7 linked regions of the Homo sapiens genome follow. The protein of the gene in region 4 purifies or fractionates together with the protein of the main gene of each other region. This does not show direct contact. Each region holds a gene or a part of one and is shown on either strand. Other genes may lie near its edges.

Region 1 (4,341 bases), on a different chromosome or scaffold from region 4:
TGAGACAGAGTCCTGCTCTGTTGCTCAGGCTGGAGTGCAGTAGCGTGATCTTGGCCCACTGCAACCTCCACCTCCTTGGTTCAAGCGATTCTCCTGCCTCAGCCTCCCGAGTAGCTGGGATTACAGGCATACGCCTCCACGCTCGGCTAATTTTTGTATTTTTAGTAGAGATGGGGTTTTGCCATGTTGGCCGGGCTGGTCTGGAACTCCTGACCTCTGGTGAGCCACCTGCCTTGGCCTCCCAAAGTGCTGGAATTACAGGCCTGAGGTACCATGCCCAGCAATTTTTTTTTAAGTGCACATTTGAACTTGATTTAAGATGTGTCATGTGCCGGACACTGTTCTAAGCACTAACATATGTTAACTCTCAAGAGGTCCCTGCTAGATGCTGTTTTTAGCCTCATTTAAAGATGGGGAAGCTGAAATCCAGAGCACTCATGAAGCTAAGGCTGAGATGAGATTTCATCGTAGGAGTCTGGCCTTCCCCCCATCATGCACCCGTGACTGGGGTCTGTGCACTCCAACTGTGTGTCTCCAGCCCAGCCACAGGAGTACCTCATATTATGCTCTGAACAGCTTCCTTAACCCCAGGTGGAGCCACAGACTGCCTCTGTCCCCTGTTAGGTCCCAGGGTCCTCTAGGTGAGGGTGCAGAATCTTTTTCCATGTGGATACTCCAGTCTGAGGGACAGAACCACTCACCCTCTGCCAAATCCCTTCTGTGTTTGGCCATGTGACCACTGATGATGTGTGTTATGATCACTGGGGGTGTGATGAGGAAGAACGGTTGGAGACTACTGCTGAGGTAACTGACAGCGAGATGGTGGGGGGATTTGGGGACCACTGATTGTGATACTGTCTCATTGGCCCTTTCTCCATCTGTGTAGAGAAGGCAGCATCGACTGCTGATTCTAAAACTGTTTTTCTTTCTAGCTTTAATTGTGAAACAAAATTATATCATGAGCCACAGCTCTATCCAGGTTGAACCCACCATACATAGCTGAGAAAAAATTGCCTTCTGAATGCTGGTGCACCCTGGTCCCTTCCTGCTGGTTGTTGGTCCTGTACAGGGCCTGTGCTCAGCTAGGCCCCTTGGTAAGGTAGAGGACTAGAAGGTCGTCTTCCTTCTATTGTTGGTACAGCTAGCTGGGAGAGGCAAGTGACTTGTCTAAGGTCACACAGCTGGTGAGCAGCAGAGCGTGGGTTCAGACCCAGGTGGAGCTGGCTGCTAGCTCAGGGTTCTTTCTCTTTTGCTTTCAGTAGGCAGCTGTGCTGAGCTGATCACATCTCAGGGAGCTGAGAAGTGAACACAGCACCTTGGCTCTGGAGTCCAGAGTTGTTTTTTTTTTTTTTTTTTTTTTTTGTTTGCGATGGAGTTTCTGTCTGTCACCCAGGCTGGAGTGCAGTTGCGGGATCTCAGCTCACTGTAACCTCCACCTCCTGGGTTCAAGTAATTCTCCTGTGTCAGCCTCCAGAGTAACTTTGATTACGGCGCACGCCACCATGCTGGGATAATTTTGTATTTTTAGTAGAGACGGGGTTTCACCATGTTGGCCATGTAGGCTGGTCTCAAACTCCTGGGCTCAAGTGATCCACCTGCTTTGGCCTCCCAAAGTTACGGGATTGCAGGTGTGAGCCACCTCTCCCCGGCTGGAGTCCAGAGTTTTCTTTCATGTGAAGTAGCACAGGGGTTTGGTGCATAGGGAGAGAGTGCATATTTTCATCACAAGGAAAAGTGACCGAGGTTCAGAAGTAGCTGGAGAGGTGAGCTTGCACCTAGCCTTGCCAAATCCTCCTGAGTTTGGAGTGCTTTCCTCTGTAGCCAGTACTGTGACACTTTGTAGAGTTTGTCCACTGGTAGATTTGGCTTTTGGGTTAACAGGTTCATTTTTTTTAGTTGGAAAGTGATGTAATATACTTTCTACCTTCACTAGCTAATGAATTTTCCTTTTTTTTCTTGACAAAAAGAAAACTTTTATTTGGAAATAATTTCAAACTCCCGGAAAAGTTGCAAGAGTAAAGTGAGTGCAGAGAACACCTGCATATCCTTTGCTGAGGCTTCCCTACTGTTGGCATTTTACCTTATTTGCCTTATCCCTCATCTTCCATGTGTATGTGCATATCTGTGTACTCACACACATTGCTTTTTTCTGAACCATTTGAGAATAAGTTGTATGCGCCATGGCCGTTTATCCTTGTACATGTTAACCATTGCAGAGAGTAGAGGCTGCTCCCACTTAACCCCACCCCATCGTTCTCACTAACACCTGCTATGTGCCAAGCCCTGTGTCACGTGGGAAGGTCTCATGGGTGCAGGAAGCCCTGTAGTTAAAGCCCAGGTTGGCCCAGGTGGAGGCAAGCTGGCATCACTGCATGTCAGGGTTATTGTTTTAGTTGGCGGTTCTGGGTTTAGGAATGAAGACTGCTGTTGTGGAAGATTTGTGCTGTGTTAGGCTGCGCCTTCGCTGCTCCACTTCCCAAGCTAGCTTGTGGGCACTTTCCCCACCCCTTCCTTCCCACTTCCCAGAGTACTGAGTGATTATATCCTCTTAGCAGCGGTGGCCGGTGATTTGTTTGTGCAGGTGTCCTTCTAGCAGTGACGGCAGGTAATCTTGTTACGCACAGATCCTCTTAGCAGTAATGGGAGGTGAGTGATCTGTGTGTGTCCTCTTAGCAGTAAGGGCAGGTGATCTAGCTGTGCACGTGTCCTCTTAGCCATGGTGGGAGGTGATCTGGTTGTGCAGGTGTCCTCTTAGCAGTGATGGGAGGTGATGGGAGGTGATCTCATTATGCATGTTTCCTCTTAGCAGTAGTGGCAGGTGATCCGGTTGTGTGCATGTCCTCTCAGCAGTGATGACAGGTGATCTAGTAGTGCATGCATCCTCTCAACACTGATGGCAGGTGATCTAGTTATTGACTCTCTCCTGCTGGACCTGAGCCTTTGACAGGCAGGGAGTTCCTCTGCCTCTCTTGGTTGTTGGCATAAGGACGACCCGATTGGCATTTAGTAGTTTCTTGACTCTAAGTGGAATGCATCAGTGACAACATTTAAGGACCCCGTAGATAGCTCTTGACTGATTAGATGTCTTTTCCTTGGTATGCTATTAGATTTTCTCTTATGTGCTGTTATGTTTGGGTGCTGAGGTTTTGATGACCGTCCTCTTTCCTTTCTTTCACTGCCAGTCTGCAGAGTGGGCTCGGTAATCCCGAGAGACCAGTTTTGGGCCAACAGTTCATTGAGCAGAGTGATGCATGGGCTTGGGTATGGTTATTATGTGATAGCTGTGTAACACCTGTATTTGTGTTTCTGACATGATTTACCAGTTGTCCTGGGAAGTTTAGTCAAAGCCAGTCCATCTCATCCTGCCATTCCAAGCTGTGTGTCCTGTCAGTGTGGACATGGCGGGCTTGGCAGGGCAAGTCTAGGTTGGAGGGTGAATAGCCTGTGGACCCAGATGCCCTGGACCTTCTGGGCATCCTCCTGGGAGATGGGGAAGCTCAGGTCTGGTTTTGCCTCAAATGAGCTGTCTGTAAAAGTAGCAGCTGGGATTAGATCAAGCCTTCTCATCCTGGCCCATGGCAGGCAGTTGGGTATGGTGGCTTAAGAGCATGGGCTCTAGAGCCACACTGCCTAGGCTCAATCTGTTCTACTGCTCACTCTTCAGTTTCCTCATTTGGAACATGGACATCGTAACAGAGCTTTATAGAGATGTTGTGAGGATTAAAATGGGTAAGTATAAAATTCTAAAAAGTGTCTGACATAAAGCAAACTCTTCATCAGGCAAAATGTTAGTGTTAATCACAGATAGAGTTCAGGAACCCTGAACTGAAATGTGAAATGTGAGGTGGTTTGTGCACAGGGCTTATTGGTCGGGAGAGAGCTCCCTCAGGAGGTGGCAGAGTACAGTGGCTCTGAGGAGTGTCTGCCACACAGAGAGTGCTCTTTGCTGTTATGATGGGATCAGAGGGACTGCGTATGACTTGCTGAGAGCCCCCGAAACAGCCATGGTGCTTTGGACAGGGCTGGGATTGTTCATACACGTTTTGCTCTTTGTCACATTCATGCTCTGTCACCTGGGCCTGGTCAGGCACAGACTGGGCACTCAGAAATCAGTTATTGAACAAATGCACAAATGCCTATTTATATTTTGACATAAAGAGCAACAGCTACTTTAGCCAGCAGGCCTTGCAGCTGCCTCTGGTGGGGGTGGCGAGGAGGATGAGAGCCTTGTGGCAGTCCTGCAAAAATGCCTTGGGAGGATGGGATCCGGGGGTAGGGGACATGGCTGTGGAGCCAGCTGGCCTGGGCCCCACCCTGGTAGGAGCTTGCTTCTGTGATGGG
Region 2 (4,782 bases), on a different chromosome or scaffold from region 4:
CCTGCCTCCTGGTATTTACGCCTTGTGTGATTCCCTTTTCTTGAGTGCAGATGGCTCCTGTGCTTTGCTTTTAACCATAGGAGATGGCAATGATGATGGGATGCCACTCTGTCACATATATAGTAAGTTATATAAAACTCTATCATCATAGTCTGGAGCTAGAGACCCTCATTGTCAGTTTCAAGAAACTAAGTGGCTATGTAGGAGAAACCTGCATGGCAAGGAAATGTGATAATCTCTAGGAACTGCAGGTGGCTTTTGGATCCTGAGAGAGGCCTCCAGCAGACACCCAGCAAAAATCCCAGGCCCTCCTCAGTTATACAGTCACCCAGCAAAAATCCCAGGCCCTCTTCAGTTAAACAGTCGCAAGGAAGTTAATTCTGCCAATAACCCAAATGGGCTTGCAAGTGGATTCTTCCCTGGCTGAGTCTCCAGATGAGAATGCAGCCTGATTGCAGCCTTGTGAGACTAAGCAGAGGACCCAGCTAAGCTGTTCTCTGGCTCCTGACCTGGAACCTGTTAGATAACGTTTGTTTTTTGTTTTTTTTGAGACGGAGTCTTGCTCTGTCACCAGGCCGGGTGCAATGGCACAATCTCGGCTCACTGCAACCTCCACCTCCTGGGTTCAAGCAATTCTCCTGCCTCAGCCTCCCGAGTAGCTGGGACTATAGATGCCGTGCCACCATGCCCAGCTAATTTTTTATTTTTAGTAGAGACGGGGTTTCACCATATTGGCCAGGATGGTCTCTCTCGACCTTGTGATCCACCCACCTCGGCCTCCCAAAGTGCTGGGATTACAGGCGTGAGACACCGCGCCCGGCCGATAATGTTTGTTTTAAGCCTTAAATTTGTGGTAACTTGTTACACAGCAGTAGAAAATGAATACTCCCAGAATTCCTGAAAAAACACTGGGGCCCTCAGGCATGACCCCTCTACATTATGTGCTACCTAGGAAAATCTGGGCCTGGGCCCAGGACACAGAACTTGGTGAACGAGGCCAGAGGGTGTGCCACACACCTCCAGTGGGCACTCTGGACTTCAAGGTAGAAGAGGTCCTGGCTTTCAAAGCAAATCGTGTGCCCCACCTCCCCGCGCCTGCCTGCCTCTGCAAATGCCTGTCAGTTCGACCCTCAGAGATGGGCGAAGCCTGGGGAATTACAGACTGCCAGAAGTAGATCACGAAGTCCACCACCTGAATCTCGGCGTTTGGCACCGTGCCTGGTACACAGTGGACGCCCAACAAACGGCTTGCTTGCAGAACAGAAAGAGCCCTCGAGTGCGCGTCTGCTGGCCCCCTCTTTGTGCAGAAGGGAAAAGGGAGACTGGGAGGGCCGGGGACCTGCGGGGCCCCGCCGCGGGTCAGAGCTGGGCCTCCGGCCAAGCGCCATCCCGGGCCCAGGCGGAGGGGGCGCTGCGGCGGGAGGCCGCGGCGGGCGGTGGCGGCGGGCCGGGGGCGGAGCGATGGCGGGGCCGCCCCAGTGAGTGAGCGAGCGAGCGCCGCGCGCGCCGCCGCTGCCACCTCCGCTGCTCGGCCCGGTCCCGGAGTGGCCCGGCCGGCCCGCGGGGCGCGGAGCCGAGGCCCGCGGCTGGCTGCATGAAGGACTGCGAGTACCAGCAGATCAGCCCCGGGGCCGCCCCGCTGCCCGCCTCCCCGGGGGCGCGCCGTCCCGGCCCCGCCGCGTCCCCGACTCCGGGCCCCGGGCCCGCGCCGCCCGCCGCCCCCGCCCCGCCGCGCTGGAGCAGCAGCGGCAGCGGCAGCGGCAGCGGGAGCGGGAGCCTCGGCCGCCGCCCACGGCGCAAGTGGGAGGTGTTCCCGGGTCGCAATCGCTTCTACTGCGGCGGCCGCCTCATGCTGGCCGGCCACGGCGGCGTCTTCGCGCTCACGCTGCTGCTCATCCTCACCACCACCGGCCTCTTCTTCGTCTTTGAGTGAGTTCCGCTGCCTCGGCGCCCCCTCCCAGCCCCCTGCCGCGCACCCCACCTTCCCAATCCCTGCTGGGCACTCCGTGCCTTCCCCTTCGCCTCCCTGGTCCTCATCCTCCCCGCCCCTTTGGGATCCTCCTCGGGCCTCTTGTCTGCCCCCCTGGCCCCTGCGCACCCCCATCCCCGCCAGATGCCCCATCCTCCTTGGTCCATTTGGGTACCCCATCCGCGCTGGTGCCCTCCACCCTCCCAGCCCCTCCATTCTCCCTGACCCCACCCTGGCACCTGTCTGCCTGCCACTGCCAGGAACACCAGCCTCCATGCCCCTCCACGGCCCCCATCCTCGCTGCCCTCTCAGAACCTGCCCCAGGGCTTCTTGAACAGGCCCCTCCTGCTCACCCATCCCTGGACCATCTCTTGCCAACCCCCCAAGTTCTTTCTGACCCTTGTATCCCTTCCTGACCACTTCTAGATCTTGTGTGTCCTTTGGCTGTGCACACCCACCATAAACATCCTAGTCATCCTCGCTGCCCTCTCCGGGTCCCTCCAGGGTCCCCTCCTTTTCTCTAGTCTCAGACACCAACCCCGCTTTTGCTTCCCCTCAGCCACGCACACCCTAGGCCCCAAGGCATCTTTTCTCAAAATCTTTGGGCCTCTCGGGCCCCCTTTCCTTCTCCAGAACCTTCCTTAGGTTCTCCAGAGCTTCCTGTCCTTCCCTCAGATCCCGCCCGCCTCCACCCAGCCGGCTCCCAGGCCCCTGGCCCCCCTGCTGACCACCTGGCTTTCTTTCCCTGCTCAACATTCTGGAACGTCCCTCTGGCCTGTTCCACATCAGCAACAGCTGCGGTGCCTTGTTGTTTTTCAGGAAAGACTTCGGAGTGCTTTCGTGTGACAGGTCATATTTGCCCCCCTAGGTTTTTGTCCTCTTCATATCCCCCGGTGACCCAGGATTGGCCCACACATAATCTCCATTTTATGGATGGAGGGTCATATATTTGTATTAGAAGTTTTCCACCCACCTCTGAGCCACCTGCACTGTGATTCCTTGCACACACACTCACACGCCCACCCACCCACCCTTGCTTCATAAGCCCTGCTGTCCCCTCCCAACTCCCCATCCTTTGTGGTTGTTCCTCTTAATTATACAGTGTAGTTAAGAACTCTAACAGACCTGGTTCAAATCCCAGCTCCACCACCCACTAATTGCGTGACCTCAGGGCAGTCACTTCACCCCCTCAGTGCCCCAGTTTCCTCATCAGTAAAATGGGATTTATAATAGTACCCACCCCGTAAGGTTGTCCTGAGGGTGGCATGAGGTCACACATGCAAGCTTTTAGCCCAGTAACAAGCACACTATGTTGGCTGCTATTAGTACTTGTGTTGTCTTTATCAAAAAACACTTCCCAAGGGCATGTGGCCATGGTAAGGCTATCATAGAGACACCCGCCCCCAGGTACCCTTTCTAGCTGCCAGATCATGTATCTGCAACTTTGGGTTTCCCCTTGAAGCAAGGTGAAGACTTCCTATAAATTAGCTTCTCCCTTTACCCTTTAACCACACACTCTGCCCTTTTTTTTGAGTAGGGTGGATAAAAAGTTCAGGGATGATTTACAAGCAGAAGCTCTGGGGGGCCCAGAGCTCAGCTCTGGGCTGAGTTTCAGATCCACTTCCCTGGGCTGGCCACATGAGTGTTTTGGAAATGCCTTTTCTAGTATCCCCTGGGCTGCCCTCTCAGTCCCCACACCCAGGGCTGCAGCCGAGGCAGGAGGAAGCAGTACTTGCCGTGGTTGACCCACATGACCCTGCAGTGTGATATCTGGCCTAACTTCTGAACTAGAAGCAGGACCTTCTCTGGGTTGACCGGGTATCTTCACTGGTGACTGTTTTGTCCCCAGCGAGGGAGAAAGCAAGGACTTCTGGGTTTGGGGAGAGCTCGTGAACCATGTTGCAGTTTGTCCCCGCTTGTCCTCATTGGGGGCTGGTAGATTGGCAGAAGAGTTTGGGTTTGGGCCGAGAGCTCACCTGGGTCTGGACTGGATGCTCCCCATTGCTCTGGGAAAAGGTAAGGTGCTCTCTAAGCCTTTCCTGCTATGAATGGCTTTGCTTCTTTGTTTGGCTTGGTGGATTGTTGCACAGGCCTCCAGCAGGGCTCCCAACTTCTGCCTTACTTCTCGCCCCCACACAACAGCCAGAGTGCCCTTTTGATTCTAACTCAGGCCTGAATCCTCCCTGGCCTCTGTCCCCTGCTGTCTTCTGTCCCCGTCTTCCCTCCAGGCATGTCATCCTCCGTGCACACTCCTACCTCTGGGCCAGTGCTTGGAATCCCCTTCCTGCAGGTGGCCTCATGGCTCACTCTCTCACATTAGGCCTCCCCTGTCCATCCGCACAGCATAGCAAACCACTCCCCTCCTGCACCTCTCTTCTCCCCTCATTTATCGCTCTCTGAAGCATTTGCCACCACCTGACATATTATGGTATACTTGTTAGTTTCTGGTCTTTGCCCATGAGAGCAGGACATTCTCCTCTGTTGCACCCTTAGTGCCTAGAACTCGCACCTGGTATGCAGTAGGTGCTCAATACTTATTGAATGAATGAATTGACAGTGTATTTGAATTAATTGACAGTGTATTTGCTGGGAGGCTGGAAACCCTAGTTCTGTCATTGGCTGGCTAGATGACCTTGAACCTAGCTGTGGGCCTGGGAGAGCTGTTAGCCTCTGGCAAATCAGGAGGCTAGGACTTGGTGGTTCCTGCAGGCTCTACAAGTCTTAGATTTCAAGTCTTCTCTGTCCCCCCACACAAGTCTGATTGCATATGAACTGGATTCATTGCCATGTGGGTGACACTGAGCGCCCACTGG
Region 3 (4,341 bases), on a different chromosome or scaffold from region 4:
CCTTCAACCTTCTGGCTCACATAGGGAGCAACTGGAAGCCCGAGGGGAAGCAACCAGGCTGCGGCCAGCACAGCTCACAGAGGCCGCCAGGACCAAACCAGAACCTGAAGCCAACTCAGAAACACCATGTGAATATGTACTCTTTTCACACATCTGGATGCCTGATGCTGAACCTATTTCATAAACTGAATTATTTCACTTCCTTTTCCCCACTCAGCTAATATCCCTTTCACTGCCTGTTAGCAATGCTAAGGCAAGGGGAGGCAAGGCCAGTGAGAGAGAGAATCACACAAATCATATCACTATATTTTTAAACCATTTCTAGAGGGGAAAACAACAACAACAACCATACAAGATTTCAGGGAAAGTGGAAGTAACCTACCCCTGAGCCACAGAAGAGAAGAGGCATGCTTTTAGTGTTGGAGTGTGTGTTGTTTTCTTCACATCTTCTATAATTCCACTGTCACATGATGTAGCTGCTTTGTGGTATAAAGAAATAAATGTGAAGCTTAAGTACCTTTTCTTTCATTAAGCCTGAACAAAAGATATATGTCTTATTTATAAATTTTTATTCACTTTTCTGTCTCCATTAAAATAGTGAATCAGACATAAAAGGTAACTACTTTCTCAAATGTTCCTGTCATCTTCTTTGTTGCCAATTATCCAGAAGTCCATACTTTTAAAAACCAACTTCTCTACCAGAAATGACAAAAGTGAAACAAGAAGCTCACTTGGCAGAGTAAAATGTGTGGAGGCACGAGCAAGAAAGGAATAAAACCTAAAGAGCAAAAGGGAGCTGACCAGCAAAAAGTGGGCTGCATTTGAAAGCAGTGCTGATTGATCAAAATAATACTTTTAAGCTCTCCTTGATTAGGTTATAATATTGAGTCGCTTGTGTTCAATTCTTAACTCTCTGATGCTAATAACCAACTTTTTTAAAGTTATATATATGGTTTTTAAAAATTCAAACACTAACAAAAAAATGTGAAAATAAAATCTACCTTTCTTCACCCTGACTCCCAATTATCTTGGAGGAGGCAGCTGTTAGCAGTTTCTGCAACATCCTTCCAGGTGTTCTGTGCATGTATAAGTACACAGATATCCTCTAAAAAAAAATTAAATGTACACACACTGCTCGCATCGCTGTCCATGCATGTTTCTGAACACTCTCTCACATCTGAACACAGATGATCAGCTGTTCTGTCCTAACAAACACACATTTCTTATAGGTACAGTTTTGAATACATACATATCTGGAGGATAAACTCTTAAAACTAGAATTAAGGATCAAAGAGTAAATATGTGCATTTTAAATTTTCATAGAGATTTGCCAATTTTCCCTCAAAAACAGCCTGCATAGACTCCTGTCAAAAACCTAACAGTGCTTTCCTTCCTAATCGTTATCAACACAGAATATTAAGCTTTAAACTCAAAATTCTACATATGTGGCAGAATAAAAGTGGCATCAACAATAGTTTCTACATCATACTATCTTAGAACTACTAAGGCTGGGACTTCTTGAAATCAAACGCATTCCCTTCACTTTTTTGAAACCATGCCTAATCTGTAGTTGTAGAAAGAGTTGCCATCATGACAACCAGATAACAAAAGTCAAATGACAATCTGTTTAAAAATCTGTACCTTTGCAGGTAAAAGAAGCAATTTTTGTAAAGTTTGTTGTAGAAGTAGGTAGTAGTACTGGTTCAAACTGCAGAGACAGAGCATCTCTCTGTGAGAAATGGCGTATATCCTGAAATAAAAGAAAAGTCCCATGTGACTACTCTCAGCTGGGAGAGTATTTATCCAGTTTGAATGAACCGTTAGAATAAATAGCACAGACCAGCCATACATAGCAACTGCTCAGCATCTGTGCCATAACCATATGGAGGGGATGCTGACAATCTTCATACAAACAGAGGTTCAAGCAAGGGCAAATGGGCTTAAATTAAAGCAAAAAAGAATAAAGATAGTGCTTCTGTCTCTGTTCCTGAAAAACCCTCATATTCTACAATTAAATGCACACTTGCAATTTTAAAAGTTACTTTAGGTAAGCATTTACAATTACCTGTATCCATATAAGGCTGTTTCCTGAATGTAATATATACATATTTACTGCTGAATCATCTGTCCAAAAGAATCAGAGTATTAAAGCAGAGTATTTAATCAGAGATTAAAACAGAGCCATCTCATTCTCACACCTTCATATAATCATTAAAATACCACATTACACATTTCTATAAAAAATGTTAACTTGTTTCTCAAAACTGAAATCAAAACTAGGAGGTGTTTTCTTTTTTTTTTTCTTTTTTAATCACAAGAAAAAAGATCCTCATAAAAATGCCTACCAACCTAAGCCCTCTAAATGATGAGGAACTACCAGGAGCAAAATTCTGAGTTTAGGGTCACACAATGCTCTTCTGAATGAAACTAACCAACTGGACGACTTCAAATAAAGCTATGTTCTCCTGTTGATTAGAAAGCTCCTCATTTCCTCATTTGGATAACCACATTTGGAAAGAAGAAAATCCTGAGATCTCAGGTTTCAGGCTTCCTTTTAGCCCTCACCCACAGAAGTGGTCCCCATGGGTCAGGGATCTGCCCTCATAGATGTTCACTGGCCACTATGAGAATCACCAAGCACTGAGGACAGGAGAGCTCTCCTGCTGATCCAGCACTACCACAGCCAGCTCTGAAGACTGAAAGGTAAAGGCTGTTTAACCAATTAAGACTGCCAAAGCAGGGCACGGTGGCTCATGCTTGCAATCCCAGCACTTTGGGAGGCCAAGCGGGGAGGAATGCTTGAGCCCAGGAGTTCAAGACCATCCTGAGCAACACAGGGAGAACCTGTCTCTACAAAAAAAAAAAAAAAAAAAAAAAAAACAACAAAAAAAAACGGTTTAAATTAGCCAGGCATAGTGGTGTGCGCCTGTGGTCCCAGCTACTTGGGAGGCCAAGGTGGCAGGATCGCTTGAGCCCAGGAGGCTGAGGTTGCAGTGAGCCGAGATCACATCTCTGTGCTCCCACCTGGGCTACACAGCAAAATCCTGTCTAAAAAAAACAAAAACAGAAACAAAACCAAAAAACAAACAAAAAAACCCAAAGAATAAAAACCATACTTTCTTGAATATGAATACAAATATACAGTCACATTCAGAAGTCTTGATAACCAAAAGATACTAGTATACTCTACGTTAGGAATTTCATGGATCACAGAATGTGTCTCTGAAAAAAGTTCTTAGGAAGTTAAACAGATGAATGCATTTATTTCTGATAAGTAGGACACACATTTCCAAAGATAAAATTCATAAAACTGAACACTAAAATTCTACCTAACTTGTCAAGCATCCAGGAACAACCGCAACCTATTAGCTATTTAAAATACAAAACAGCATGATGTGGTTAAATGAGCTTAGGCAAATCATTAAAAGTGGAACAAGAAACCCAAGACTTCAAATACTTTGTAAATATTTATATTAAACTGTCATGCCCATTTAATTTCCTTACTGTCTCCAAACATGAAGAAAAATTATTCCTAAGGAAACTCAGAATAGTTTGCAGTTGTCACTTCTCCCCAAAATAATACAGCCTTCTTAGCAGTTGTAGGTTGAGAACCAGTTACTACTACAATCACTTAATAATTAAAGCAAAGGCTATTTGTCTTGGTTTGCTATGATACAATCTGTTCATAAATGCTATAGAATGATGATGCAGACTGATGAAAATATAATAAAATTTTTAAACATTCCACCTTACCTGAGGTCTCAGATTCATCTGTAGCTACGTAAACAATAGAGAGATGATCTAACAAATGTTGTGTGTTTTCTTCAAATTCTTTTGAAAAGTTTTCCATTGTTACCATTATGCTCATTTGTAGACGCAAAACATCATCAGATTCCAGATAACAACCCTATGGTTGGAAGGAGGAGGAAAAAAGGAAAAAAAAAATCATCTCAACTTTGTGGTTTCAAACTATGGAGGAAAGGAGAAGCATTTAACGTAATGGGACGTGTGTGAGAACAGAATATGCTGTTTTGTGTTTTATTTTATTTTATTTTATTTTGAGACGGAGTCTCACTCTGTCACCCAGGCTGGAGTGCAGTGGTGCGATCTCGGCTCACTGCAAGCTCCGCCTCCCAGGTTCACGCCATTCTCCTGCCTCAGCCTCCCAAGTAGCTGGGACTACGGGCACCCGCCAGCACGCCTGGCTAATTTTTTTGTATTTTTAGTAGAGACGGAGTTTCACCGTGTTAGCCAGGATGGTCTCAATCTCCTGACCTCGTGATCCACTCGCCTCGGCCTCCCAAAGTGCTGGGATTACAGGCATGAGCCACAGCGCCCAGC
Region 4 (4,463 bases):
CCTGGTCTTATGATAATACTAAAGTCCTCACCCAGGGAGGGGCTTATCTGCCATTTTCTGATCATGCAACGTATGTGTTAGCATGCGTCTGAGCACCCTTCGCTCCACCCCATATGTGCAATGACACTCATGTAGCTCATAAATTATGTATGTCACCCTCCTTAAGACACCACAATGCATTCCCCTTGGGGAGTCAGCCAAGAATTCTTCCTCCTGCACCGTCTCTCTTCTGCCCAAACTTTCGGGGCATAAGACTTAATAAAGTCTTGTCTGGGAAGCTTCCTTGGCCTAATATCAACTTCTGTTTCATGGGAGCCCAAGAACATGTGGTTGGGAACACTGCCAACATCTTTATTTCCAACTTCTGGACTTCAGAATTGTGAGACAACAAATCTCTGTGGTTCTAAGCTAACCATTTTGTGGCACTTTGTTACGACAGCCCTAGGAAACAAACGCAGGCACGTTCTGCTCCAACTGCCACTCTCTCCAGACCACAGCTCCTCCACAAGCCCACCCCATGAGAGGCTGAGGACAGAAGCAGGACCCTTCACAGGCCACCATCACTGCTGGATGGTCACCCCCAGCACTGACTGTCTGGAAGCTCCAGGCTCAGCTCTCAGTTTCCTGGAGCAAGGGGGAGGATGAGGACAAGGAGGAACGAGGGCACTGGCCTCCCAGGAATTGTCCCTGAGCCTCCATCCTGCTGTCCTGAAGCTGCCCCTGAACCTCCAACTTGCTGTCCCCAGAACTGTCATTGAGCCTACACCATGCTATCTCTAGAGCCCGGAAAGCCCAGGGCTGGACAAACCCCACCCCTCACTCCTCCTCTGGCCCCTTCTCCCAGCCATCAACACTTTGGAACAGCCATCAAGCCCCTTTTAATCTCTAGAAAGGTGCCTCAGTAAGGCACAGAGAGGTCACACCAGGTGGTCATGGTGCCTTACCTGTGTCCACTGGGCCCAGGCTGGCCCTTTAAGGGTATGAGGGCAGAACAGCTGAGAGACCACACCCCACTTCTCAGAGAGGTCAGGGATAAAGAAAAGGGACAATGGAAGGAAGAACTTGTGGCCAGGATGCTGAGGGTAGAGGCTGCTCCCCACAGGCACTGAGCAGAGGGGTTGAGGGGGGAGCCTCCAGCCTCCATCCAGACAGGACCTCTGACCGCTGCTAGGGGCCCCTTCTCAGGAGGTTCAGTCTCAGACAAGGGCTCCAGAAACTTCAGTCCATTTTCCCAAAATGGACATGATGCATCTGGCGAGTCAGGGACCTAGAATGTCCAGGACCGAGCCTTGCTGAGGACAGAAGGGAGCAACATGCCCTGGAGGTCCTCATGCAGCCCAGGCCTCTGGCAGTGACCAGCCAGCACCCAGGCAACTCCTTGCTGGGTCTCCAGGCCCTGATGGTCACAAGAAAGGCCACAGGCCAGGGCTGGGATGGGCCCAGAGCTCTGTGTGTTTCCTGGGAGGGCTGAGAGGTGCCATCCCCCATAGCAGCCCAAGGCACAGTAGTTGTTGTTGTTGCTGCTGCTGCTGCTGCTGCTGCTCCTGCTGCCCTCTGAGTCTGGGGGAGCCGGCCTAGTCAGGGACGTGGGGGCCCAGTCCTCCTGTGGCAGATAGGCAAGCGTCTGTACCCTCCACTCCGTACACCCTGCTGGCAGCACATCCTCTGAGCTCAGGTTCCCCGGGAGCCTGGTCCCAGGGCCCTCCTGTTCCTCCTCCAGGGCCACAGATTTCCAAGGACGCGCTGGGCCACAAGTGAGCAGTGCAGTGGCCTCCTGGACGCAGGGCTCCAAGGCTCCCTGTGGGGTGCCAGCACAGTCCTGGCTCAACAGCACACCGGCCCCGTGGGCCCCCATCCAAGTCTGGAACAGAGCACGGGAGGAGGGAAGGGCTCAGGTAGCATGTTCAGAACTCATCCTGGGAGCAGCTGCCTCCTTTCTGGCAAGCCCAGCATCCCTCCTCCTCCAGGAAGCCCTCCTGAGGTCCACACCCAGAGGCCAAGCAGCGCCTGTGTCTTGGACATTCTGTCTTTCCTCCATGTGCCAGCCCAGCCTCATCACGGGACCCTGAGTCCCTTCAGGCTCCTCAGCACTCCCCCAGCACAGGGCCTGGTGCCCACGGCAGCCTGAACCGAGGTACAGATGGTGATATCTGCCCAGGACAGAGCCAGCTCCTGACAGCATGTGCCTCAGGGCCTTTCAGCAGCTGCAGAGACTGGGCATTCCCAACACACACACACACACACACAAACATACACAAACACACACACACACAGAGACACACACACACACAAACACACACAGATACACACAGACACACACACACGAGACACACACACACAAACACACACAGACATAAACACACACAGACACACACACATAAACACACACACACACAGACATACACACACAAACACACACACACAGACACACACACCACACGAACACACACAGACACATAAACACACACAGACACATACACACACAGACACACAGACACACACAGACATACACACATAAACACAAACACACACACACAAACACACACACAAACATACACAGACACATAAACACACACACAGACACACACACACAAACACACACAGACACACACACAAACACACACAGACACAAACACACACAGATACAGACACACACACAGAGACACACACACACAAACACACACAGACTTAAACACACACAGACACACACACATAAACACACACACACAGACATACACACACAAACACACACACAGACACACACACGAACACACACAGACACATAAACACACACACACACACACACAGACACACACACGAATCGCTGTCAGGACTGGTGACTTTCAAAGCACTCGGCTATGGCCAGCAGACCTGGATCCTTCTGTGGGGCCACAGGAGGCCCCCGCCTCCAAAAGGAAGCTGTTCCCTTGGTGGGACCAGGAGCCTCCATCCCATGCATCACACACACAACACCCTCCATCACTGCAGTGCTCCCTGGAGACCAACCTATGGCACCAGATCCTCACCCGCAGGTCTAAATAACCCGTGGCAGGTGTCCTAGTTCTCTAGGGAACAGCTGGTGCCCGCAACAGGATGACAGTCCAGGGGACAGTCACAATCTGACCTGCTCAGCCTTGTCGTCAGCTGCCCAGGCTCCTGACAGTCACATCTACCACCTTGGGGAAAGAGGGAGACTCTGCCAAGAGCCAGATGCCCGGTTCATGGTTCAAATTATATTTTTGGACAAAAATCTTGAAAACTACGCTCCTCATTGAGAGAGAAAAGGATTTTTCTGCATAGTAAGCTGGAGCCACAGTGTGAAGGGGACAGGGAGGGAAGATTCTGGAGAAGAGTGGTCAGCTTGGCCCAGACCCCAGGGAGGGGCCCTCACTGCCTCTTGTCCTTTGCCCAAAGTGAGGAGTCTGAGGGGAAAAACCAGAGACCACTCACTGGAGCTCTCCCTCTCCCCCTCCTCCCACCCAGGGGGCATGAACCAACAGCCCAGCAGGGAGGGGAGGGGCTGATGCAACCCCCAAGTTGCTCACTGGTGCCTGGGCTGTAGGAGCCCAACATGGGTGGAAGGGGGGGAAGTGCAGAGCCCACTCCTCAGCTGTGGTGCCATCATGTGATCCGGGGAGACCAGGGGACCAGGCAGAGCAGGAGCCCAGAGGCAGTGAGAGCCCCAAGGGCAGCACACACACCACAGACCCTTCCCCATGGCCACAGGACAGACACCTTCGCAGAAGGAGGAGGTGAGGCACATGGTGGGTGCAGAAAGCTGCAAACCAGAGGGGACAGAGATAAGTTATGAGAAATTTACATTTTTTCAATCAACAATGGAACTAGAGACCTGAGAACAAAAAGAAATCAGCAATGGAAAATAAAGCTAATTTTTCCCCATTTGAGATACGCGTATAAATTGAAATTCACTGAATATACAAAAAAGGCTCCAAGCACTGACAAGCCTCCCATACTGGCCGCCAACCCTCAGTGAAAGCCAACATCTTGGGCAGGCCAGAGCTCTGGGCAACCCCTGCCCCCCATGTCCTTCTGTGGTCTCTGCACACACCTGGAAGTTCCCATTGTGTACACTGTAGAGGGGCTGGAAGAACATCGCTGGAGAGGGCACGTTCTGGTAGAAGATTCTCTTCACCCTGAGGCCAAGAGAGGCCAGTCAGAGGCCTATGGCGACCCAGGTGGCCTGAGGTCACTGCAGAGGCTGAGCTTCCTTCCATCAGCAGGAGGTCCGCCCACCTCGTCCCTGCCACTGCCTCTCTCCCATCTCATCACATTCCAACCCACTCTCAGGGCAGGACCCAACTGGGCCTCCTTGCCTAACGGCCGCATAGAACTGATTTATACTGAGGCGCGCGTCCTTTACAGCGTGAGCTGCGATGGCGGGTTCAGAACGGGGAGTTACTAGCTGGGTCCTCAGATCACAGAGGGAGCCAGCACTCCAGGAA
Region 5 (2,313 bases), on a different chromosome or scaffold from region 4:
AATGAGTACCTTGTTCAAGAAGCTCTAGATCGACTGATGGATGGAAGAACGGTGTTAGTTATTGCCCATCGTCTGTCCACCATTAAGAATGCTAATATGGTTGCTGTTCTTGACCAAGGAAAAATTACTGAATATGGAAAACATGAAGAGCTGCTTTCAAAACCAAATGGGATATACAGAAAACTAATGAACAAACAAAGTTTTATTTCAGCATAAGGAAGCAATTACTGGTAAACAATATGAGACTTTAATGCAAAACAGTGTTGCAGAAAAAAAACTCAGAGACTATGAAATACATAAACCATATATCAAGTTATTTGAAAAATACCTATTTTTTTCCAAAGTGTGTAAAAGATTGTTTTGAAACGTACCTGTTCTCAAGATCTTTTTATTCAGAGTTTTAATAATTGTAACTTTTTAAATGTCTATAGCACTGAAGTTATTTTCAGGTTTTGTATTTTCTTTTCTTGTGGAATATTTTAATTAATATAGCATGGCACCTCATTTTCTTTTGCCTGCTGTTAAAGATTGAAGCTATTGTCAAATGACAACTTTAAAAAGGCAATTATAAATAAAAAGCCTGATTATTTTAGGCCAGTTTACCAATCACTGTGTAATTCTTCTGGTAGTATTCTACCTACTTTTAAGTCTAATTTTACAGATAGAATAATGGAAATTGAAAATTTAACCCTTTATTCCGATAATCTCATGAAGCAAACCTAACTATTTAACATCAGCTGGAAAGAAGGGAACATTTATATTGCCCATCTCCTGTGTCTTCAAAGGTGTGAGAGCTGAGGAATATGTGTTCCTATGGGAACTATGTTTGAATATGTGCAGTTTTCAACATTTTGGCACATGAAAGCCTGACAAGTTTTTAAAAGGGCAGAAGCTTTATTTTTTGAACAGGAAAACATGTTTTTTAAATTCACATGTTTGTATGAGTACTTTTGCGAAGCAAGGCATGAACTGCTAGGTATTATTAAGAATGAATGATTTTTGCATTTAAGTTGTTTGAAGGCATGTATTTTGAAAAATATCTGTTACAAATTTATAATTTCAAGACAAATTGAATCTTATTTTATAATACTTTTGGAATTTCATTAATAAGGCTAAAATTTGAGGAATATAACTAATTTTCAGCCTTAAGACATTTAAGTTTGGAAGTCCTTGCTATTCAACAGAATAACAAGAAAACTTCAGAATGTATCACTCTCCTGAAAAGAAGATATTAATAAGCCCTTTTATTTATGGTTATAGTTTTATTTATAGTCTCAAAATTCCTAAAGCAATGCTACAACCATTGAATTTGCCATATTTTGTATCAGTGCTGTTAATTTGCTGTTGCCTCAAGAAAAAGTGCTTTTTCTCCATGGATGAGGCTAGACCCTAAGAAGTAATTAAGTCAATGTAAATCAAATGGAAGTTTTCCCATGAACTAAGCATTTATTAGTTCCCTGATTAGACTGGAAGAAGAAACCACTATTTCATGAAAAGCATGGAATATTATATTTTATTGTTCATAATTAATGAATAAAATTGATATGAATGAATATAGTGTTCTTTGAATTAGTAAACAGTACATCTGTGACAATCATTTTTAACAAGCTCTACTTGTGTTCTTTATAAAGTGTGATTTTCAGAAAGCAAACAACACAATTACAAGGTTGAATCTGAGGAAAATAATCCTTGTGCCATAGAAGTATTTACGAAATTGCATTTCATTGTTATGTTTTATTTTCTGATACATGATGTTCAATTTTATCTTTAGGTAATATTTTATATCATAGATTAAAATTTATAGTGAACTTTATCTGTGTCTGTCACTTTTTTTTTTTTTATGACCCAGGAACCAAAGATGCAGTCTGTCATTTCTTATAAAACTTCTCACTACATTGTTTCTTAGTAGAATTTGGCTGTGGAGATTCAGGAATAAAGAAAAGACTAACATTACACATATCCAAAAACATGTTGTAATTAAAAGTTCCATTCATTCCTCCTTACCAAGTTTGTTGAATGTCATCACTTGTTTGCTACTTACAAATATTGTTTAATTGTTTCACTGCAGTAAATAAGTATCTCCTACCTACATCAGGGACAAGGAACTGTGCTGTGAAGTTGATAGATGAGTAAGCCACAGTTTCTGCCCTCAAGGAGCTTCTAGTTTTGAAGGAGTGGGAAGGCAGGGGAAAATTAATAACAAGAATGCAGCTAGGGATCATAAAGAGGTGTAGTTGTAACACTGTGTTCTGGTATCACTTTTTTGTTTCCAGAGTGTTTGCATGTTACATTTGATACTTTGACAAGCCTGTA
Region 6 (5,075 bases), on a different chromosome or scaffold from region 4:
CTTTCCTCATGATATTTTACATAGTATCTTAATATTTAAAACACATAGGAAAATGAGTCAGTCTAATTAAAAGAAGACGAGGAAAACTCAAGCCTAGACTGTTAGGCTTGCCTGATCCATTTTCCCTTCTAAGCCCTCCTACAGCAACCCCTGAGACACTGAAGAGGGATTTCATGGGACAGTCTAAGAACATTTTTATCTAGAGAACATAATTATCTAGAGGAATCCTCAAAGCCAAAGTCAAAGAGAACGAACAAAGAACTGCTAGAGTTAGGAGGCAAAGTTAGAATTTTTTAGTTGGCTAGAATCCTAGTTAGGGACAGCTAAGATTTTCTATCACAATTTGAAAGTACTGAATCAATAAGTTGATAGCATATATTAATAAAATTAAGGCATGTACCTCAAAGAGCAAACAACTTTTATCTCAATACCTATATTAGATAGTACCTTTCTTCAAAAGCATTTTCGCATATTCTCATTCTTATTTTTAAGTATATAAAATAATACTTATTTGTAGAAATTTTGTAAAATTCAGTAAAGTTTTTTAAAGTTACTGCAATTTACTACTTCATTTATTTCAACATCCTGCTATGATGCAAACAGTACCATCATTTTTAAAATAAGGAAATCCAACGAACGGCAGAGTAAAAAATACTCTAGCATAAACTAGTTACTCTGTATACATACATAAACAAAACTCGGATTAAAAATTAGTATGAGAATCGGAGACTGGAAAAATCCCTTCAAACTGGAATTTCAGGGAGAGCTCCACTGAAATGATGAGATCAGAACTAATTTTAAAGATTGGGTGGAAGAGGGATTGGAAAGTCAGGAAAAAAAAAGGACAAAGGTCAGGCCTAGAAAACAAAAGTGCATAAATACCATTAGACAGGCCTGAAAATACAGTAGTACTGATTGCTAGCTCTGAAAATTAAAATCAAGACAAGAGAAAAACTTTTTTCAGGGAGGAAGGAGAAATTAGCTGGCAGAAAATATCTTGAGCAAATACTTCATTAGGTAAAAGTATCTCTTTGAACTGCTACATTATCAAACCTCCTGATGGCATGGGCTAACCCAGCTAAAAAACAGCTAACATTTATTAAGACCAAACAATTTTTTGACAATTTAAAATCCTTGATGGAATTTGACTTATAATTTGCCCTCTAAAAAAAGAATGCTTATAAGTAGATAAACCATCACACTTACCTTGTATTTTCATTCACTTCTCCCTTCTTCTAATAGATAAAAAGGGGATAACAAGAATTTAGATGATCAGCCAAAATAAAGAATGGGACTGCTTTCACTTTGTGGGCCCCATTTCACATCTTTTTACCTCCAAAGTATTTTGGAATTCTGAATTTTGTCTTGAAGGGCAGGATTTCTACCACAGTGTCAAGAATAAATCTCAATAAGCAAATATCTGAATGACATGATGACTTTTATGTTAGTCTTACTGATCAAAGGACATTAAAATTATATATAGCCTTATTTTTTCTTTACCTGTTTCTCAAGCCTGTTCCATTGCCACAGCCTCCACCAACCAAAGTCTGCAAAGAAGGTAAAGCTGAACGGCTTAGCTGTTGCCGACTAGGGCCCCTCCTTCCACCGGGCATGTCCAGGAACCAGTCTGCTTCCAGTGCCACCTGTAGTTGCAACCCAGGTTAATGGTTGTCAACCAGTTTCAACTCTGAACGACAACAAAAACATTTAAACATCAGTAGACTATTTTTAAAGTAGGCAACAAAACAACGACAAACACTGAGTAAGCAGGCCTTACAAAATAAGATTTTCAAACGAATGTTCCCAGTGTCTACTACTTACGTTATTCGAATTAAAGGACTACTCAGACTCTAATGGGTCAAAAGCCTAAGTTCTGATCTAAGCTCTGTTCAGCTTTAGGCAAGTGATGATTTGTGTCTTTTGTCAACTGATTTGTATCATCTGTAAGATATTATAATCAAATAGAAGTTTACAAGAAACATCACACCTTATACATTTCCAGCTCAATGTTTCACACTTAAACTACTTGAAATATAGAAGAATTGGCACTTTATAAAACATTAGGTTTTGTTATCAAGGGATATGGCTTGTGAGCTCAGATGGTCACATATTATCTGACCTTATCCGGATAAGTTAACTTCTGAGTGTGTTCTTCTGAGTGTGTTTCTTCAAGGGGGGGGGGCGGGGGGGGGGAGTGTCCCCTGTTCTGCAGAGGTTGTCAGGACTGAGGAAGTGGAATGAAAGGGTACCAGTAGTTCTTTTAACAGTTTAAAAGTAAAACTGTTCGAGTGGTATCTCTATATGTTAGGGTTAAAATATTGAAAGAAACTCTTCAAGGGGATGCCCGCTCCAGAAAAGCTGGTGTAAAATCATACAGAAATTACTGAAACTGCAAGATTAAGAAGCAAGTAAAAGATAAAGATCCTCACTGGAAAAAAAAAAAAAAGCTCTTTTCATCATTCTACGGCAAAAATCATGATTCTGTCAACATGGATACCAATGTTTCCTAAACAATACAACTAAAACCCAAGGATGACACTGGAAAAAACCCGTGTTTTCAAATGCTCCCTATTCCTAACAGCCTTCGGCTGTAAACTAACCCCAAGTCAAACAAAGCATTCAAACCGCTGGATGCAGGGGCTGCTGGTCCTTGCTCCATTAACAAGCAAAGGGAAAGAAAAGTGCAGGGAAAAAACTGGGACGGAAGAGGTGAGAGTATGCGGTGTGGTGGACTGCAGGAGACCACAAACTTCAACAGACTGGTCCCTAAGAGAAGTCGGCAGAAAGGTAGACAAAGCAGTCTCCGCCGCACACCCAAGAGGGCCGAGGCAGGTCCAGGACAGCCGGACCTTGGGGCAGCTCAGTAATACTCACGCATGGAAGAGTCCCAGCCGGTGGGGCGGGGTCCCTAGAAAGCGGCGACAACTTTACAGACTGGACCCCAGGTAAGGGAACTCCCTCCCAGCGTTGGAACGCTGCAAACCAGCTGCTTGGACGCAGGCAGCCCCCGCCTAGAGAATCAAGAAAAGGTGTCCAGGCTTCGGGCTGCCAGACTCAGACCCAGACTCCGACGCAGTTCCAGTGCCAGAGCTAAAGCTAGAGCCAGAGCCTGATACTTCAGCACCCATCCCTAGCCTCCATTACCGCGGAGCTGAGCAGACGTGGCAGCGCACGGCGATGACGTCAGCTACGCGACCGCGGTCTGCCCCAGCCGCGAGTGCGTCCCCGGAATCAGCCGGCACGACAACCCCTACCATTTGCACCTGCGCAGTGGGGCGCGCCTTCTCCTCTTAACTCGCGGTCCCGCCCCTTCCGGCCAGTGTTGGCCAAAGCATTTCCTCTTTCGGCCTCAGTCAGCTAGCGGCTGCTAGGTGCGGGCACCATGCTACTGATCCTTCTTGCTGTCTCTTGGACTCCATGTAGTAACCATGTACAAGTTATCACCGCCATTTTACAGATGAGTGTAGATTAGGAGGTGTCACCTAGGGTCACGTTACTGCTAAGTGAGGGAGCCCAAGTCATGAAGTCATGCGTCAGCATCCAACCCTGCGCTTATTGTTTGCTAAGAACTAGACAGATGCTGTGGTTACAAAGCGAATACCACAAAAGCTCAGAGTCTAGTGGAAGAGAGGCGACACTAAGAAAATACAGTAATTACCATTTGTTACAATATTAAAAGTGTGTCCAAGGTCCAGAGATAGCATGTAACACTAACGAATTCTGTGGGATGGTGGTGATGTCAATACCAAGAAAAGCTTTGCAGAGAGCTTGGGGTTTCAGCCAAGACTCCACAAAGGCATAGGGGCTTTGTGGGAGAATGGCAGTCCTCCTGGAGAAGTGGCAGATAAAAAGGTAAAGATCTGTGAGCAACGTCATCTTGAGTTCAGGAATTGACAATAGTTTGGTATTAGAAGAAGATAAGAGTGTCAAAAGGAGCATTTGTGTAATCTTTCACTCCAGAGATTTTAATCTCCTTAATAGAAAGTTGTTTGTATTGATTGAATGATTAACCTTTATTAAGAATTTTGTTGTGTCAGGCACTGGATTAGTAGCTTTACACATTTCATTTAAATCTCACATTTTGATAGCTTCTACTATGGTTATTATTTTACAGAAGAAACTGAAGTTAAGAGAAGTTAAGTAGCTTGTTGAAAATAGCCTGCCTGGCCAGGCAGGGTGGCTCATGACTGTAATTCCAACACTGGGAGGCCAAGGCAGGAGGATCACTTGAGCCCAAGAGTTTGAGACCACCCTGAGCAATATAGTGGAACCTTGTCTCTATGAAAAAAGTAAAAAAATAAATCGGGCATGGTGGCTCACACCTGTAGTCCCAGCTACTTGGGAGGCTGAGGTGGGAGGATCACTTGAGCCCTGGAGGTCAAGTTTGCAGTGAGCCGAGATTGTGCCACTGCACTCCAGCCTGGGCAACAGAGAGAGACCCTGTCTCAAAAATAATAATAATAATAATAGAAAAAAAAGAAAATAGCCTGGCTAATAAGAGCCAGAACCAGAATTTAGAGCCAGAATGACTGATATCGAAACCAGTAAAGTTGCTAATATTCCCAAATATTCCTAATGTCCTAATGTACCACAGAGCTGTCACTTAGGAATACACACAAGTCTCCAACTTAGGATGGTTTGACTCACAATTTTTCAACTTTATGATGGTGCAAAACCAACACTCATTCAGTAGAAACTGTACTTCCAGTACTCGTACAACCATTCTGGTTTTTTTTTCATTTTTAAATACAGTCATGTGTCCCATAATGATGTTTCAATGAAAGACCACATAAATGATGGTGAGCCCATGAGAGTATAATAAAACTGAAAAACTCCTATTGCCTAATGATGTAGCTGTCTTTATGTTGTAGTGCAATGTATCCTGGTGTACACAAACCTGCACTACCAGTTGTATAAAAGTATAGCACATACAATTATGTACAGTATAACATACTAAATAATGATAATAAATTACTTTGTTACTGGTTTATATATTTACTATACTATACATTTATTGTTATTTTAGATTGTACTCCTTCTACTTATTTTAAAAAAATGAAAGTTAACTGTAAAAC
Region 7 (4,341 bases), on a different chromosome or scaffold from region 4:
CCCTGCTGAGCACTACTGTGGCAACTAACTCTCATTTCTGGGTGGTTAGCTCGATCAGCAAAGTTAAAGATTTAAAAGAATGACAGGTAGAGAGATGGCCCAAAAAATGGTCTGTTGGAAAATTCAAAATTATCTCAGTTTAGGTACTATTAATAAATGTTCCATGAAAAATAATAACTTTATACTTGAAGTTGCTTTCAATGTGAACATAATGGCTGGGTGCGGTGGCTCACACCTGTAATCCCAGCATTTTGGGAGGCCGAGGCAGGCAGATCACCTGAGGTCAGGAGGTCGAGACCAGCATGGCCAACATGGTGAAACCCCGTCTCCATTAAAAATACAAAAATTAGCTGGGTGTGGTGGTGCACGTCTGTGGCCCCAGCTACTCAGGAGGCTGAGGTACAAGAATCGCTTGAACCTGTGAGGCGGAAGTTGCAATGAGCCAAGATCACACCATTGTACTCCAGCCTGGGCAACAAAGTGAGACTTCATCTCAAAAAGAAAAAAGTAAACATAACTACACCAAAATTCAAACAAAAATATTAACACTGTTGCCCTTTATGTGAATATGAAAGTATTACCTCAAGTTGTATTTTTTAAAGCTAATTCCATTCCTGTTCTTTTATCCTATATAATAAGTCTTATCCCATATGATTTTAATATCTGATACTTTAATAAAATGAGTAAGGATTCTTCCTAATTTCTATGATCAGATACATGTATGTCATGGATAAGAACCCAACTGTTTTTTCTCTAAGACAAAAATCTAAGATACTTGGTCACTAAAAATCCACCAGCATTTTATATAATTGTTGGTCACTCCCTAATGCCAAGAGTCAGTGCAAAAAAAGCATAGAAAGGTGGCAGAAAAGAAGAAAAAGGCGAGGGCAGCCAATTAAGGCAAAAAGGAGAGGAACTGAGATGAAGCATGTAGAACATTTGGAGCCGGGGGGAAATCTCACTCCTCTCTAAAAGTCCCAAAACTGTATTTGAGTTTGGACTGATTTATTTCTAGGAAGCACCGCTGCTATTTCAGATCCGCTTACCTAGGCATCTTCTTTTCACCCTTTCCAGCTCATGCACTCTTCTGGCTGACAGCACAAGAGAAACTCCTAGTTTAGACAACTGGTAAGCCAGCTCCTCACCAATTCCACTCGAGGCTCCAGTCACCCACACCACCATATCAGTCAGCTCCCATTCTATGGAAGGAATGTAAATGGAAGGAAGAAAATAAGCAATGAATTACGCTCATAAATCCAAGATTAGAAAAAAAAAAGAAAGCCTTAAACAATACCACTAAATATGAAGGCATGATGTATAGAGTTAAAATTTGAAATATTCTAAGAAAGCATCTCCTTCTTAACTAAAAAAAAAAAAAAGCATTAATACAAATCATACTAGTAACAGTTATCAACACAGTATTTGTATATTACAGAACCTTCATGACTTTTCCAGACTTTACTTCAAGGTAAGCCTTATAACCTCATGGTTTCACTCTAAGGCTCTATTTAACACAAACAGGTAAGATAAATATGATAGATAAGATAAACAGGCTAAGTAAATACAAAAATCACTGTCTGGACTCACTTTTCCTTAGCCATTAAATGAGGCATTCAGATTAGATGATGGCTGAAGGTCACATCCAGTTTTTAATTCTATTATTCTAATATTTTGCAATGGAGGTTGATGAAGAATCTAAATATACCAAGTTCTGTGCTGTTGATGGAAACATCCTAGATTTTTAAAGTAGTATTTTCCCCATTTGCCAATAATGCCTGATGCCTATCAGCTCAAGGTCATTTTGTAAAAATGTTCCCCAGATGCCTGAGCTTTCATCTTAGGAGAATATAGTAATTCACCCAAGAACAAATGCATATTACAGAGAGATGAAATATTGTACTCTGCTTCTCCAATTATGTTCCTCTTAAAAGACTACAAATGTTACAGTACTAAAGCAATGACAAATGGTTTATTCTTTTCTCCAATGAAAAACTTATTAGCACTTCAGGAGATGATATTCACTGTCTCTCTGAACCCGTAAAGTCACTGTTATGCAAAGTTCCTGGGTGACTTATTTACTAAAATATATGTTATTTATCAAAAATATCAAATATCGTATCACTTAACATCACATTTCCGATTTTAGATCAGAAAAGTTAAAATCAGGAAATGATTGTACTGTTTTAAACAGCTCTAAATCCTAACTGTGATGTTAACAGTACCATCCCTGGAGACTGCCAGGGTTCAAATGCCAGCTCCATCACACACAGCACTGAAATGCTCCCAGGTGAGAACTTGGTGCCTTAATTTTCCACAACTGGAAATGTGATGAATAAGAACACATCCTTCACAGGATTGTTGAGAAATGAGTTAAAACATGGAAAGCACTCAGGGCAGTATCTAGTACATACTCAGTGTTTAATAAACGTCAATTATAATTATTGCTCAAGTTTTTTAACAGATGGACTTTACTACAGCAAAACATAGAACAGTCACTTAATAACGTATGTCTCCTAACTTCTCCAGCCAGGAAAACAGAGTTACCAATTCTAATGGCTTAACGTTTTTACATTACTTCCTATGTACTTAGCACATTGTCTACTAAAAGCCTCACCAGAACTGTATGGAAAGGTATTATTATCTCAGTTTTACAGAAAAGGTAACTGAGGTTTACAGAGATTAATTTGTCCCACTAGACCATAGATTCCATTAAGGGTAGGACCCTGTCTACCTTGTTCATTGCTGTGGCCTCAGTGCTTAGCAAAGACTGGAATATTGAAAAGGCTCCATAAATAACTACTGAATAAACACCCAAGAACCCTGGCAGAGCCGGGATATAAGCCCAGGTATATCTAGCTCCAAAGCCCACACTGTCCACTATTTCATGATATACACATTTACATATGATCAATATTTTAAAACCCAACTGTTTCTTAGACATTCAAGAAAATACCACTTGTCCTTAAGAAAAAGGTTCCATGTAAATATCTCAACTAAGGCCAGGTACGGTGGCTCACATCTGTAATCCCAGCACTTTGGGAGGCCAAGGCGGGCAGATCACTTGAGGCCAGGAGTTCGAGACCAGCCTGGCCAACATGATGGAACCTGTTCTCTATGAAAAATACAAAAATTAGCCAGGTGTGGTGGCGCATCGTTGTAACCCCAACTACTCAGGAGGCTGAGGTGCAAGAATTGCTTGAACCTGGGAGGCAGAGGTTGCAGTGAGCCAAGATTGCTCCACTGCACTCCAGCATGGGTGACAGAGTGAGACTCTGTCGGAAAAAAAAAAAAAAAAAAAAAAATCTCAACTAAGGATGGAAACATCCCAAATACTATGTCTGGGCTACAATGCTTTCCTGTCATATAACGTACTTTTGTGAAAAGGCACAATTGGGCCACCTTCCTATAGGACTTTATCAAGAACAACATAACATCTATTCAGATAATCATTTATTCATTCATTGACTACTTGTTGTTCCCAAGTTCTGCAATCATCACACTCTAGAGTGAATATCATTTGTTTTAGAAACACAGGATTTACTAACTAGTGTCGAGCTAACAAAGACCTCTTGATATTTACACACATAAGCAAATATTTAAAGCTGATGGTGTAAACTTTTAATACAATCACAATTCTGGCCTCTTCCTCCCACCCTGAAGAAACTTTTTTATTTAGCACCGTTTGTTTCCCGATTCCACAGAATCTGGTATACATAATGGCCTCCCTTTAAGAGCCCCTGAAAGTAGATTCTTAAGAGTTGAAAGGAAAGTGATAGTTCAACCCCCACTCCAGTTTGAGAATTCTCTTCTCAAGCCCTTGACCCATCTCTAATTCCCTCACAGGATGAGGAAGCTAATTATCTCTGAAGGCTTCAGCTCCTTTTTTGGGAAAGTCTAATCATTCCAGGGATCTTTTTTATACTGATATGATAAGCTTTTAAATGCTATCAACCAGTAGCAGTGGGCAGTAATCCTGCCTTGTGGTTTGACAAAGAAGAAATCAAACTTCTGGTGTCGGTGGGTCCAAGTGTCCAGCCTGAGGCATCCTCCCCATCCCTTCCTCTCCCAGCACCTCAAACATTCATCAAGGATTTTGTATCCAAGGCCCAAAAGTTTGTTACCCAAGACGACAAATATTGACATGGATGCAGTTGATGCTGAAAATCATTTGGAATTGGAGGGAAAAACACAGCTTATTAATCAAGTGTTGGAACCCCAACATACACTTCAAGATCTCCCTGTCAGAGGAGATGCGGTTACGGAAGAAAATCTCAAGCTAAAATCAGAAAACCAAGTTTCTTAGACAATACACAGAAAATTTCATGTCAGCTTCTAGTGTTT

Evidence for each region.
Region 1: the proteins of IL9R (region 4) and DGCR2 purify together in Homo sapiens (affinity purification with mass spectrometry, with the first as the bait; one large-scale study listed by BioGRID). This does not show direct contact.
Region 2: the proteins of IL9R (region 4) and ZDHHC18 purify together in Homo sapiens (affinity purification with mass spectrometry; 3 studies listed by BioGRID and IntAct, with this or other methods). This does not show direct contact.
Region 3: the proteins of IL9R (region 4) and TMEM131L purify together in Homo sapiens (affinity purification with mass spectrometry; one large-scale study listed by BioGRID and IntAct). This does not show direct contact.
Region 5: the proteins of IL9R (region 4) and ABCB10 purify together in Homo sapiens (affinity purification with mass spectrometry, with the first as the bait; one large-scale study listed by BioGRID). This does not show direct contact.
Region 6: the proteins of IL9R (region 4) and TMEM39A purify together in Homo sapiens (affinity purification with mass spectrometry; 2 studies listed by BioGRID and IntAct, with this or other methods). This does not show direct contact.
Region 7: the proteins of IL9R (region 4) and DHRS7 purify together in Homo sapiens (affinity purification with mass spectrometry, with the first as the bait; one large-scale study listed by BioGRID). This does not show direct contact.

The regions. Positions count from the first base shown.
Region 1 is NC_000022.11:19,115,396-19,119,736, reverse strand, and holds part of DGCR2 (integral membrane protein DGCR2/IDD isoform 1 precursor), read left to right. Parts: intron 1-4,341. UniProt on the Homo sapiens protein: Putative adhesion receptor, that could be involved in cell-cell or cell-matrix interactions required for normal cell differentiation and migration.
Region 2 is NC_000001.11:26,825,211-26,829,992, forward strand, and holds the start of ZDHHC18 (palmitoyltransferase ZDHHC18), read left to right. Parts: upstream 1-1,477; 5' UTR 1,478-1,594; coding exon 1,595-1,929; intron 1,930-4,782. UniProt on the Homo sapiens protein: Palmitoyltransferase that catalyzes the addition of palmitate onto various protein substrates, such as CGAS, HRAS and LCK. Acts as a negative regulator of the cGAS-STING pathway be mediating palmitoylation and inactivation of CGAS.
Region 3 is NC_000004.12:153,580,973-153,585,313, reverse strand, and holds part of TMEM131L (transmembrane protein 131-like isoform 1 precursor), read right to left. Parts: intron 3,908-4,341; coding exon 3,754-3,907; intron 2,125-3,753; coding exon 2,066-2,124; intron 1,751-2,065; coding exon 1,642-1,750; intron 480-1,641; coding exon 383-479; intron 1-382.
Region 4 is NC_000023.11:156,007,214-156,011,676, reverse strand, and holds the end of IL9R (interleukin-9 receptor isoform 1 precursor), read right to left. Parts: intron 4,155-4,463; coding exon 4,070-4,154; intron 3,779-4,069; coding exon of another isoform or gene 3,542-3,778; exon of another isoform or gene 1,862-3,541; coding exon 1,268-1,861; 3' UTR 860-1,267; downstream 1-859.
Region 5 is NC_000001.11:229,516,082-229,518,394, reverse strand, and holds the end of ABCB10 (ATP-binding cassette sub-family B member 10, mitochondrial), read left to right. Parts: coding exon 1-216; 3' UTR 217-1,813; downstream 1,814-2,313.
Region 6 is NC_000003.12:119,460,462-119,465,536, forward strand, and holds the start of TMEM39A (transmembrane protein 39A), read right to left. Parts: upstream 3,155-5,075; 5' UTR 2,875-3,154; intron 1,688-2,874; 5' UTR 1,614-1,687; coding exon 1,501-1,613; intron 1-1,500. UniProt on the Homo sapiens protein: Regulates autophagy by controlling the spatial distribution and levels of the intracellular phosphatidylinositol 4-phosphate (PtdIns(4)P) pools.
Region 7 is NC_000014.9:60,154,954-60,159,294, forward strand, and holds part of DHRS7 (dehydrogenase/reductase SDR family member 7 isoform 1 precursor), read right to left. Parts: intron 1,200-4,341; coding exon 1,047-1,199; intron 1-1,046. UniProt on the Homo sapiens protein: NADPH-dependent oxidoreductase which catalyzes the reduction of a variety of compounds bearing carbonyl groups including steroids, retinoids and xenobiotics.